Linked DNA regions of Homo sapiens. Changing the gene in region 2 together with the main gene of any one other region gives a genetic interaction. Each region holds a gene or a part of one and is shown on either strand. Other genes may lie near its edges. The genes, in order: CHD1, PIM2 and PLA2G4C.

Region 1 (2,673 bases), on a different chromosome or scaffold from region 2:
TATAACATCCTCCATTCACTACAATTATTGTACAATGCTAAAATGTATCTAAGTTTTGTCTGCATTTTCAAATTGAGTATTTAATGTATATTTAATAGAGGCATCTATATTAATGTGCTTTTACATATTAACTCAGAAATATTTTAAAATATTTTTGCAGTTTCCTATGAAGCTGAAAGTCGTTTTTTAAAATCCTGTATTTAAAAATTAGTTGCTCTTCCAAATCCCTATCCCTTTTTAAGCTGTTGTATTTATAAAGCTATTTGTATTTATAAAGCTATGACAGCTAATTTGGGGTGCAAAGATTATTTTCTAGTTAGAAATAGTAATGGGGTAGAGTAAAAATCAGGCCATTTACTCCTAGAGCATATTCTTGATAAACTTCATGAAAATGAATAACCTACTCAACCTTTTCATATTAACTACAAAAAGAAATTATAATTTATATTACATAAAATTAAAAAGGTTCTCATTAAGCTACTCACTCTGAAAATAAAATTATTCAAACTCATTTTCCATAGTCTGAAAATTAATTTCTAACATACTCTAAACAAAGAATATCTTTATAAGCAAACAGGCTATTGCTTTTAGTAAGAATTATTTATTGTATAAAAGTGGAAGGTTAATTGGTACAGTACTATACATAATCTCTCACCCTTGAAAAATTAAACATAACTGGATAAAAATAACAAAGCAGAATGAAAACAGAATATTTTATGGAGAATGTTCTGCTATATTTATGTACTAATGTTCTTCACCATTGCGTCTTAATTTTTCTGATTTCTTACAAAAATGAACATATTTTATCATTTGATAAATGTACATACAGTTCTATATTTTTCATTCAACTCAGCTAACTAGCTGACTGAAACTTTCAACTAAATGTAGCACTATTTAAAAAATTAGAGCCTTATCTCAGAAAATGCAACATTGTTCTGTGAAATTTGCACAATATAATGCAAATATCTTAGCTTTTAGTAATAAATTAAAAAATGCCAGCCACCATCTTATGACTTAAGCATTATGAATTAGTCAAATGCTATCTTGTGGAATAAAATAGTCATACTAAATGTAGAGAAAAGTGATAAAAGTTTCAAAAATGTGTGCCAGGACTACCTTCATTACTTTTATATTTAATTATAAATTAGATGTTTAAAAAACTGAGCTACTCCCTCACATGTTCTCTCATATACCAGAAAAGAAACAAAGCATTATTATTCTTCAGGGTAACTGTATCAGAAAGAGAAATTACTGCAAAAAACAAAACAAAAAGCAAAAAAACCCACAAGCTTTTATACACATAAACCTAATTGGACAAAGGAAAATATTAAAAAATACACCTATGGACAAATATCTGTAGGTTGCTCCCACAGCTAATTAACAGTGACACACATAGCAATACTATAGAAATTATGTCCACATACTTATATTCGTCAAAGATTCAAATTTGTTACATCAAAGCATACATGCAAGAATGTGTGCCACATGACTTAAAAACTTCCCGCTGAATATAAAACAAAATAAAAATCTGTGAATAAATATAAAGCATCCCATAATAATATCTGTAGGAAGCCAAAAGGGGCCAACAAAAATGTCTATGACCTAAGTTTTACTTCATAGGAATATTCATAGTCTCCAAAACAGATTTAGTTGTAATGCTACACATTACAAATATTCAACTGCTTACCAAAATACTTTTTCTGGCAGCAAAATGTTACTTAAAAACGGGGGTAGGGGGCGGTGGTGGTGGTGGTAAGTGCTTGAGGGAGTAAGAATGCAGCAGAAAATTACAGGAGCCCACATATCCTTTTTCTTAAATTTAATTTGTCATATATAACGTTTTTATATACAATCAGTGTGCATTGTAACAGTTTATATTAAAAGTCAATCAAGTTTATCTAAAATGTTAACCTGGCTGCATAGCACATTTGACATTATTGCCCACATAAAACGGGAAAACAAACGGATTTACAATAACTTTTGGCCGTTTTGGATTCTGAAAAGTGTTTATACACCTACCCTTTTAAACCAGATGCATCTGAAAAAAGTGTTTCCAGAGCATGCAGTTTAGATTTTACATATCTCGCCATTTTTTAAAACTACAAACACAATATTGACTAAAAAAGGAAAAAAAAGGGAATAACATGTATCTAATAAAATATTCAGTATAAAAAGAGGACTAATGGAATTAAGTGGCCCCTTTCCCCATTTTTACATTCTAAACAATGATTCCATCAAGACAAATCATTAAAAAGTGTTATTACACTGATTTTTTTTTTTTTAATAAGAAGGCCTGAGTTGGTAGGGAAAGGAACAGTCAAAAAAAGCCTGAGAAAGGGAAGGAAGTAAGGAAAGTTCCTTTAATATTTACAATAATTTACAGCCATTTTTTTTGTAAAAAGGCATAATAGATCACAAACAGGAAATTCCTGGCTATTTTACAGATATAAGTACAGAATTTAAATATTCAAGCTTGTGATGAAAAGCGGCAAGGTGGTCGCAGTGTACAATGTAAACAAGTAGCTTTGGAAATGAACAAAGTCCTTGAGTGTTTTTCTTTATTAAGAAAGAACTCTCTTTCATTCCTTCCTGAAACATGATCACAGGTCAGAGTAAAGTTCATATATAAACATAATTTAAATGGAGGTCAGTCTAAAATCACTGACTTAAAAA
Region 2 (4,266 bases):
GTTCCATTGATAAACTGCATGTGTCATGGTGTATGTATGTCTGTGTCTGAACAGGTCTATCCATGTCTGTTTTTGTGACACTGCCACAAAATGTGATTCTATCACATCAGTACATGTCTGCCTTCAGAGCAGTGCATGTGTGTCCCTGGAGCATCTGTGCATCTTCCTGTGACAGACTCTGCGTCTCTCATTTCTGGGACAGTACAAGTCTTGCTGTGACAGTGCATATCTGATGGTGACAGTGTGTTTGTGACAAGTTCTGCCAGTGTGACGGGACATTTCTGTGTCATCACATGGCAAATGTAGGTCTGCGTGAGTGCCTTTCTGTAACAGTGTATCTCTGGGTGTCATTCTAGGACATAACTATTTTTCTGACAGTGTGCTTGCCTGAAAGTGTATGTCAGTCTCTGGCTGCATGTGTATCTAGGTCGTTTCTGTGAATGTGTCTGACAGTATGTGTTTGTGTATATCTTGGCATTCATGTGTCTTTGGAGTGCATTTTTCTTCCTGGGGTGTGGCGCCTTTTCTGGCTGTTTTTCACAAATTTGTGTCTGAGAGTTGCCACTTCTCTAGCAGCCTCTATCATGTCTCTCAGTCCTTGCCTCTCTCAACTCCAAGAGCAGCCCCATGCCACCACCACTCTGGGCTCACCCCCATCCCCCAAGAACCACCCCCTGCTGTTCTAGATTCTAGACTTGCTGACTGGGCCCAGGGCTCAGGGTTAAAAGCTCCAATAAACACTCACCAGGCAATGCTGCCTTTGACCAATGCACACCCGTGGCGTTGATGGTAGGGGTTCCCCCTCCCTGGCTACCAGATATTTCCAGGGCCCTGGCCTCAGCTTTCCAGTGAAGGCCGCCAGTCGCCTGGAGGACTCCGGTGAAGGAGTCCGACAAGCACCTTTCGAGACGGAGTCTTGGATAGCCACAAGCGCGAATTCTTAGAAGCCCGGCCTGGCGCTATCTCTGTGCTAATATCCAGGCAGCGGCGGCAAACCAACTTCCCAGGAAAGGATACTGCGCAGTTATTTTTTAAGTGTAAATACACACACACACCGCCACCACTACCAACAACAACCCCGCGCAACAACCAAAACAAGCGCGGTGCTGCAAAGGGATTCCCAGAACCGGTTTCCTCTTGGTGTGAGCCCCACCTCAAGCCCCCTCATTTACATGCAGGCCCCGCCTCCTCGGAAGAACCGAGCGTGTATTTGCATAAGGGGGCCCTTGAAACGATGAGGGTGGTATGCAAATAAGAACTGGCTCCGATTGGCTGTGGTACAGCAGGTGCCGCGTCCGGATTGATCAAAGCCAGGTGGGCGGGGCTGTCGCCCAGGGTGACTCTCCCGGGAGGCGCGTGCCCAGGCTCAGTAGCATTGGGGCTGGCGCGCGCGGCGAATCTCAACGCTGCGCCGTCTGCGGGCGCTTCCGGGCCACCAGTTTCTCTGCTTTCCACCCTGGCGCCCCCCAGCCCTGGCTCCCCAGCTGCGCTGCCCCGGGCGTCCACGCCCTGCGGGCTTAGCGGGTTCAGTGGGCTCAATCTGCGCAGCGCCACCTCCATGTTGACCAAGCCTCTACAGGGGCCTCCCGCGCCCCCCGGGACCCCCACGCCGCCGCCAGGTGAGTACATCCTCCCCTACTGCAACCAGACGGGGTGGGCTGGAATGATGGGTTGCAGCGCGGGGGGAGGGAGTCGTGGCTGGGCTCAGCACGCCGCCACCCTGACTTCCTCGCCTCCGCCTGCGTAGGAGGCAAGGATCGGGAAGCGTTCGAGGCCGAGTATCGACTCGGCCCCCTCCTGGGTAAGGGGGGCTTTGGCACCGTCTTCGCAGGACACCGCCTCACAGATCGACTCCAGGTATCCGTCATGAGGGTCTTGGGAGGGTCAGGTGCGTGTGGCGGGGGCGGGGGTCCTGGCCCTGGAATGCTGGTTGACCGAGGAGTGAGCCTGCAGAGTGTGTAGAGGACCAGGTGTGTGTGTGTGTGTGTCCGTGTCCGTGTCCGAGGAGTGAGCCTGCAGTGTGTGTAGAGGGCCAGGTGTGTGTGCGTGCGCGTGTGTGTGTCGGTCTAGGAGGTTATGGGCGGGGGGGGGGGGCAGGGGGCTTCAGATTCCGGAGTTCCTTGACCCCGGGGTCCAGGCTGTGTATGTGTGGGAAAGCAGGGACCTAGATGTGAGATTTGTGGGACTTTTGGAGGTAGGTGTCCAGTGTGGAGTCATGCGGACCAGGACCCTGGTACAGAGTTGGGGTGTCGTAGAGCTAAATAGGAAGATTGTGGGCCTGGGGTATCAGGAAATCTAGAACTCAGGACTTGGAGTGATGAGTCCTGATGCCTGAGAACGGAGAGCCCAGGGCTAAGGAAGGTGGGAGAGATAAACTTGGTTCCGAGGACCTGGAGGGCAGGGGAGACGCCCTGGTACGCGTTCTGTGGGGTGCTGTGGTTGGGGACCAGAAAGACTAGAGTGCTGGTAGATGGAGGAATACTGGAGGTAGGCAGAAGGTCTAGACTGGGAGGGGTCTGGGGATCACCTGCTGGCCTCCTTATCACGGCCTTCTTCTCCAGGTGGCCATCAAAGTGATTCCCCGGAATCGTGTGCTGGGCTGGTCCCCCTTGGTGAGTACCTTCGGAGCCCTTCCTAACCTACCTACTCCATCACTGATGTATTCACCTCCTTGCTTTTCCAGGGGATGTATGACTCCCTGGGCCCTGTAACAGTGAGAATACTGCCAGCCCATTTATACTCCCTTGGGGTGACATACAGTTCTGATTCACCCCAATTCCCCTAGAGCCCTGGATTCTCCCCTCCAACAAACCTTTACCATCCTTCCTCCAAACACTGCTGGGGGACTGCCCGCAGGGCGTGCTGGTGGGGAACAAGGGGCAGAGGTCACTGGTTGCCATGGTGATGGTGGCTGCTTCTCTCTTGCCGTTATAACGCTAACGGACATCAGGGCGGGTCTGGGCAAGTTGTAGAGTTGGGAGCGCCCCCTGGCGGGCTCTAGGGGAAACTGCGCCTGCGCAGTCCATGGGACCCAAAGGGAGAGGGTGCGCCTGCGCAATATCGGTATTTTTGCATCTCGGTGAGAAAACGTCTGCTGCCGTGCAAGTCAGCAGCCTGGCCAGGAGAGGGCTCTACCTCATCCCAGAAGGTTGCTGCTCGAAGTGTACCTGCGCAGGGCTTGGGGAGGCAGTGGGGGGCGGATTTTGTGGCCCCCAGCGTTTATACTTTTTTTTTTTTGGAGACACAGTCTCCCTCTGTTGCCCAGGCTGGAGTGAGGTGACGCGATCTCGGCTCACTGCAACCTCCGTCTCCTGGGTTCAAGTGATTCTCCTGCCTCAGCCTCCCAAGTAGCTGGGACTACAGGAGCGCACAACCATGCCCGGCTAATTTTTGTATTTTTAGTAGAGACAGGGTTTCACCATGTTGGCCAGGCGGGTTTTGAACTGCTGACCTCAGGTGATCCGCCTGCCTCGGCCACTCAAAGTGCTGGGATTACAGGCATGAGCCACCACGCCCGGCTGCATTTATGACTTTTTTTTTTCCTTGAGACGGAGTTTCGCTCTGCTGCCTGGGCTGGAGTGCAGTGGCGTGATCTCAGCTCACTGCAGCCTCCACCTCCTGGGTTCAAGCGATTCTCCTGCCTCAGGCTCCTGAGTAGCTGGAATTACAGGCACCCGCTGCCATGCCCGGCTAAGTTTTACGTTTTTAGTAGAGACCGTGTTTCACCATGTTGGCCAGGCTGGTCTCGAACCCCTGACCTAGTGATCTGCCCGCCTTGGGCCTCCCAAAGTGCTGGGATTACAGGCGTGAGCCACCGCGCCCGGCCTCTAATTTTGTATTTTTAGTAGAGACGGGGTTTCTCCATGTTGGTCAGGCTGGTCTCGAACTCCCGACCTCAGGTGATCTGCCCGTCTCGGCCTCCCAAAGTGCTGGGATTACAGGCGTGAGCCACTGCGCAGGGCCACATTTAGGCTTTTTATTGGCTGGTTCTAGGTGCTTGGTGATGCTGACAAAACACATGATAACACTAAGTCCTTTTGTGCTAGGTCCTTTGTAATAAATCACTCAGCTGTTTAACAAATTAGGTATATTGACCACCTACTATATGACAGACATAATTCTAGACACTCAGCAAAGTATTACATAAGTATTGAGAGCTCATTTTGTGCTAGGTCCTTTTTTACTAATTGTTTTCACCTGTTTAACAAATATTTATTCAGCCCTACTCTGTTAGCAGCCACTGTTCTAGTGCTTCATATACGTCCG
Region 3 (4,217 bases), on a different chromosome or scaffold from region 2:
TGACCCTGCATCTATAACTACTAACTATACTGTGGAGAGCCTCATGAGCTCCTGCGAGGTGTAGAACCTTATCCCGCAGGCGGGGCAGTGGCATGGTCAGGTCTAGGAGTGAAAAGATCCTGCGATGGTTGGAGTTGCGGGCACTGAAGAGGTGAGCCTGGCGTTAGGGGGAGCAGGGGAGACCATCTTCCCCCTGGTGAAATCCTGTTCTAAAATTGGTGATACTCCTGCCTTGGCCTCCCAAAGTGCTAGGATTATGGCCTCATATCTATTTTTAAAAAATAAGAATTCAAGCTGGGTGCGGTGGCTCGCAACTGTAATCCCAGCACTTTGGGAAGCCGAGGCAGGTGGATCACTTGAGTTCAGCAGTTCGAGCCAGCCTGGCCAACATGGTGAAACCCTGTCTCTACTAAAAATACAAAAATAATTAGCCGGGCGTGGTGGCAGATGCCTATGTTCCCAGCTACTCGGGAGGCTGAGGTAGGAGAATCGCTTGAACCCAGGAGACGGAGGTTGCAGTGAGCCGAGATTGCACCACTGCACACCAGCCTGGGCGACAAAGAGTAAGACTCCATCTCAAAAAAAAAAAAAAAAAATTCAAAACCCATCGAGTTGGGATGACGCTTAGTGCTGGGCTTCAGGAAGAGTAGGCAGGAGGGTAGTATGGGAGGTTTCTAGGAGCCACTCTTGGAAGCGGTGCTCCCCACAGATGCCCGATTGCACTGACTGGAACTCGGTCACATGACCACATAACTCGCTCACATGACCACACCTAGCTGCAAAGGTGCTGGGAAATGTGGTACCCTGTTGGGAGGCCACTTCTGGGCTTCAAACCTTCACTGTGAATGGAGCTCACAGGTTTTCTAAAAATGGACATTAAATGAACCAGAGTTGGCCCTAAGGATCTGGCTCACTGCAACCTCCACCTCCCAGGATGAAGCACCTGCCTCAGCCTCCCGAGTAGTAGCTGGGATTACAGGCACACGCCACCATACCGAGCTAATTTTTGTATTTTTAGTAGAGAAGGTGTTTCACCATGTTGGCCAGGCTGGTCTCGAACTCCTGACTTCACATGATCCGCCTGCCTCAGCCTCCCAAAGTGCTAGGATTACAGGCGTAAGCCACCACGCCTGGCCTCAATATTTCTTTTTCTGGGTATTTGAGTATGATATTATATATGATGGTTATTAGACAGCCAGATGCATAGGAGGATTAGCTAATCTGTTTTGAGGAATACTTATCTCCAATATAGTTATATAACGACAACATTCTTTTTTTGAATACTGGTCTCGGGTGCCTAATGACAGAAGGGTGACATCACTAAGGAAGCCTGGAAAGTCCCAGCCCTCCACGTGATCCCACGGATGAAAATAGCTCCGGGTGAGCTCTGGAACAGCTGAAAAAGCTGGAGCAACCAAGCAGGGCCTACAAGCCGAGGAGGGCTGTTTAAAGGCGCAGGGGCCATTTTACCTCCAGGTTGGCCCTGCTCAGGACCAGGAGGAAACACCTCCAGCCCGCGACCTCCTCCCACAGGGGGAAAAGGAAAGCAGGAGGACCACAGAAGCTTTGGCACCGAGGATCCCCGCAGTCTTCACCCGCGGAGATTCCGGCTGAAGGAGCTGTCCAGCGACTACACCGCTAAGCGCAGGGAGCCCAAGCCTCCGCACCGGATTCCGGAGCACAAGCTCCACCGCGCATGCGCACACGCCCCAGACCCAGGCTCAGGCAAGCCGTGGGGGCAGGGAGGGCTGTTTCATCCCGCTGGGGCGGCCATAACCAAGTACCAGGGATTGGGTGCAATTAAATAACAGGATTTCTTTTTCTTTTTTATTTTATTTTATTTTATTTATTTATTTATTTTTTTTTGAGACAGCATCTCGCTCTGTCGCCTAGGCTGGAGTGCAGTGACGCGATCTCGGCTCACGGCAAGCTCCGCCTCCGGGGTTCAAGCGATTCTCCTGCCTCAACCTCCCGAGTAGCTGGGATTACAGGCGCACACCACCACACCCGGCTAATTTTTGTATTTTTAGTAGAGATGGGGTTTCACCATGTTGGCCAGGCTGGTCTCAAACTCCTGAACTCGTGATCCACCCCACTCGGCCTTCCAAAGTGCTGGGATTACAGGCGTGAGCCACCGCGCCCGGCTAGGAATTTATTTTCTAACACTTCTGGAAGCTAGAAGTCCAAGATCAAGGTGTTGGCAGGGTTGGTTTCTCCTGAAGCCTCTTGCAGAGGCCCTAATCTCTCCTTATAAAACCAATCAGGCTGGGCGCGGTGGCTCACGCCTGTAATCCCAGCCCTTTGGGAAGACGAGGCGGGCGGATCCTGAGGTCAGGAGATCGAGATCATCCTGGCTAACACAGTGAAACCCCGTCTCAACTAAAAATACAAAAAATTAGCTGGGCGTGGTGGCGGGCGCCTGTAGTCCCAGCTACTCCGGAGGCTGAGGCAGGAGAATGGCGTGAGCCCGGAAGGCGGAGCTTGCAGTGAGCCGAGACTGCGCCACTGCACTCCAGCCTAGGGCACAAAGCGAGACTCCATCTCAAAAAAAAATAAAATAAAATAAACCAATCAAACCAAATTCCAGGCCACCCTCAGGACCCCACTTTAACTTAGTCACCCCTTTAAGAGCCTATGTCTGGCCGAGTGCGATGACTCATGCCTATAATCCCAGCGTTTTGGGAAGCCAAGGTGGAAAGCTCTCTTGAGCCTAGGAGTTCAAGACCAGCCTGGGTGACATAACAAGACCTGATCTCTACAAAACATAAAAAATTTAGCTGGAGATGGTAGCATGTACCTGCACTTCCAGCTACTCGGGAGGCTGAGGTGAGAGGCTCGCTTGAGCCCAGGAGGCTGAGGCTGCAGTGAGCCACGATCACACCACTGCACTCCAGCCTGGGTGACAAAGCAAGACCCTGTCTCAAAAAGCAAACAACGAAAAAGAATCCTATGTCCAAATACAGTCACATTCTGAGGTTCTGGGGGTTACAAGTCCAACATATGAATTTGGAGGTGGTGGGGGGAAGCTGATTAATTTCATAAGGGGGGTCTTGAAACTGCCTTCGCAGAAATGTAAGTAATGAGAGAAAGCTAACATGACTGACCATCTTGTTTCTAACCTCACAGGCTAGATTTTTTTTTCTTATTCTAGTGCAGAGGCCAAAATTACCATGAGAGGAATTTAATTCATAGTTAAACTTTGAGACAAAGAAAACTGACCCCCAGTCCTTGTTGAGAGATTGAAGCCACATTCATTTACTTTTTATTTATTTATTTAGTTTTGAGACAGAGTTTCACTCTTGTTGCCCAGACTGGAGTGCAATGGCATGATCTCTGCTCACTGGCACCTCCACCTCCTGAGTTCAAGTGATTCTCCTCCCTCAGCCTCCTGAGTAGCTGGGATTACAGGCGCCCGCCATCATGCCCAGGTGACTTTTGTACTTTTAGTAGAGATAAGGTTTCACCATGTTGGCCAGGCTGGTCTCCAACTCCTGACCTCAAGTGATCCTCCCACCTCGGCCTCTTAAGGTGCTGGGATTACAGCCATGAGCCACTGTGCCTGGCCTGAAGTCACATTCATAAGACAAGGTTAGAATCATGAAGGTGCTGGAACTTTGCTAAAGAACAGTCGTGGGTTGAAGAATGACCTGCCATCCCTTAGCTTCCTTTTCTATATGTGCTCCAGAGTCACGTAACCAGGGGTCGCATGATTTATAACTTCCCCAGCTACTTCTATAAATAATATCACTGTCGTGAAACACAGAACTCAGCTTTTTAGTGGGGTGTGGTAGCTAACACCTGTAATCCCCACTTCTTGGGAGGCTGAGGCAGGAGGATTGCATGAGCCCGGGAGAATGAGACCAGCCTGGGCAACATAGTGAGACCTCAATCTCTACAAAAAAATTAAAACTTTGCCAGACGTGGTGGTGCATGCCTGTAGTCCCAGCAACCCAGGAGGCCAAGGCAGGAGGATTGCTTGAGCCCAAGAGTTGGAGGCTGCAGTGAGCTATGATTGCGCCACTGTAGGGACCAGCCCTGCAGGGTCTGTGGGTCTTTCTCCCCATGTGCGGAGACGAGAGATCGTAGAAATAAAAACACAAGACAAAGAGATAGAAGAAAAGACAGCTGGGCCTGGGGGACCACTACCACCAAGACGCAGAGACCGATAGTGGCCCCAAATGCCTGGCTGCGCTGTTATTTATTGGATAATAAGGGGC

The links.
Region 1: changes in PIM2 (region 2) and CHD1 together harm fitness more than expected from each alone (negative genetic interaction), as found in Homo sapiens cells (one large-scale study listed by BioGRID).
Region 3: changes in PIM2 (region 2) and PLA2G4C together harm fitness less than expected from each alone (positive genetic interaction), as found in Homo sapiens cells (one large-scale study listed by BioGRID).

Annotation. Positions count from the first base shown.
Region 1 is NC_000005.10:98,853,400-98,856,072, forward strand, and holds the end of CHD1 (chromodomain-helicase-DNA-binding protein 1), read right to left. Parts: 3' UTR 586-2,673; downstream 1-585. UniProt on the Homo sapiens protein: ATP-dependent chromatin-remodeling factor which functions as substrate recognition component of the transcription regulatory histone acetylation (HAT) complex SAGA. Regulates polymerase II transcription.
Region 2 is NC_000023.11:48,916,127-48,920,392, reverse strand, and holds the start of PIM2 (serine/threonine-protein kinase pim-2), read left to right. Parts: upstream 1-1,368; 5' UTR 1,369-1,558; coding exon 1,559-1,619; intron 1,620-1,747; coding exon 1,748-1,857; intron 1,858-2,561; coding exon 2,562-2,612; intron 2,613-4,266. UniProt on the Homo sapiens protein: Proto-oncogene with serine/threonine kinase activity involved in cell survival and cell proliferation.
Region 3 is NC_000019.10:48,107,995-48,112,211, reverse strand, and holds the start of PLA2G4C (cytosolic phospholipase A2 gamma isoform 1 precursor), read left to right. Parts: upstream 1-1,394; 5' UTR 1,395-1,696; coding exon of another isoform or gene 1,697-1,725; intron 1,726-4,217. UniProt on the Homo sapiens protein: Calcium-independent phospholipase, lysophospholipase and O-acyltransferase involved in phospholipid remodeling with implications in endoplasmic reticulum membrane homeostasis and lipid droplet biogenesis.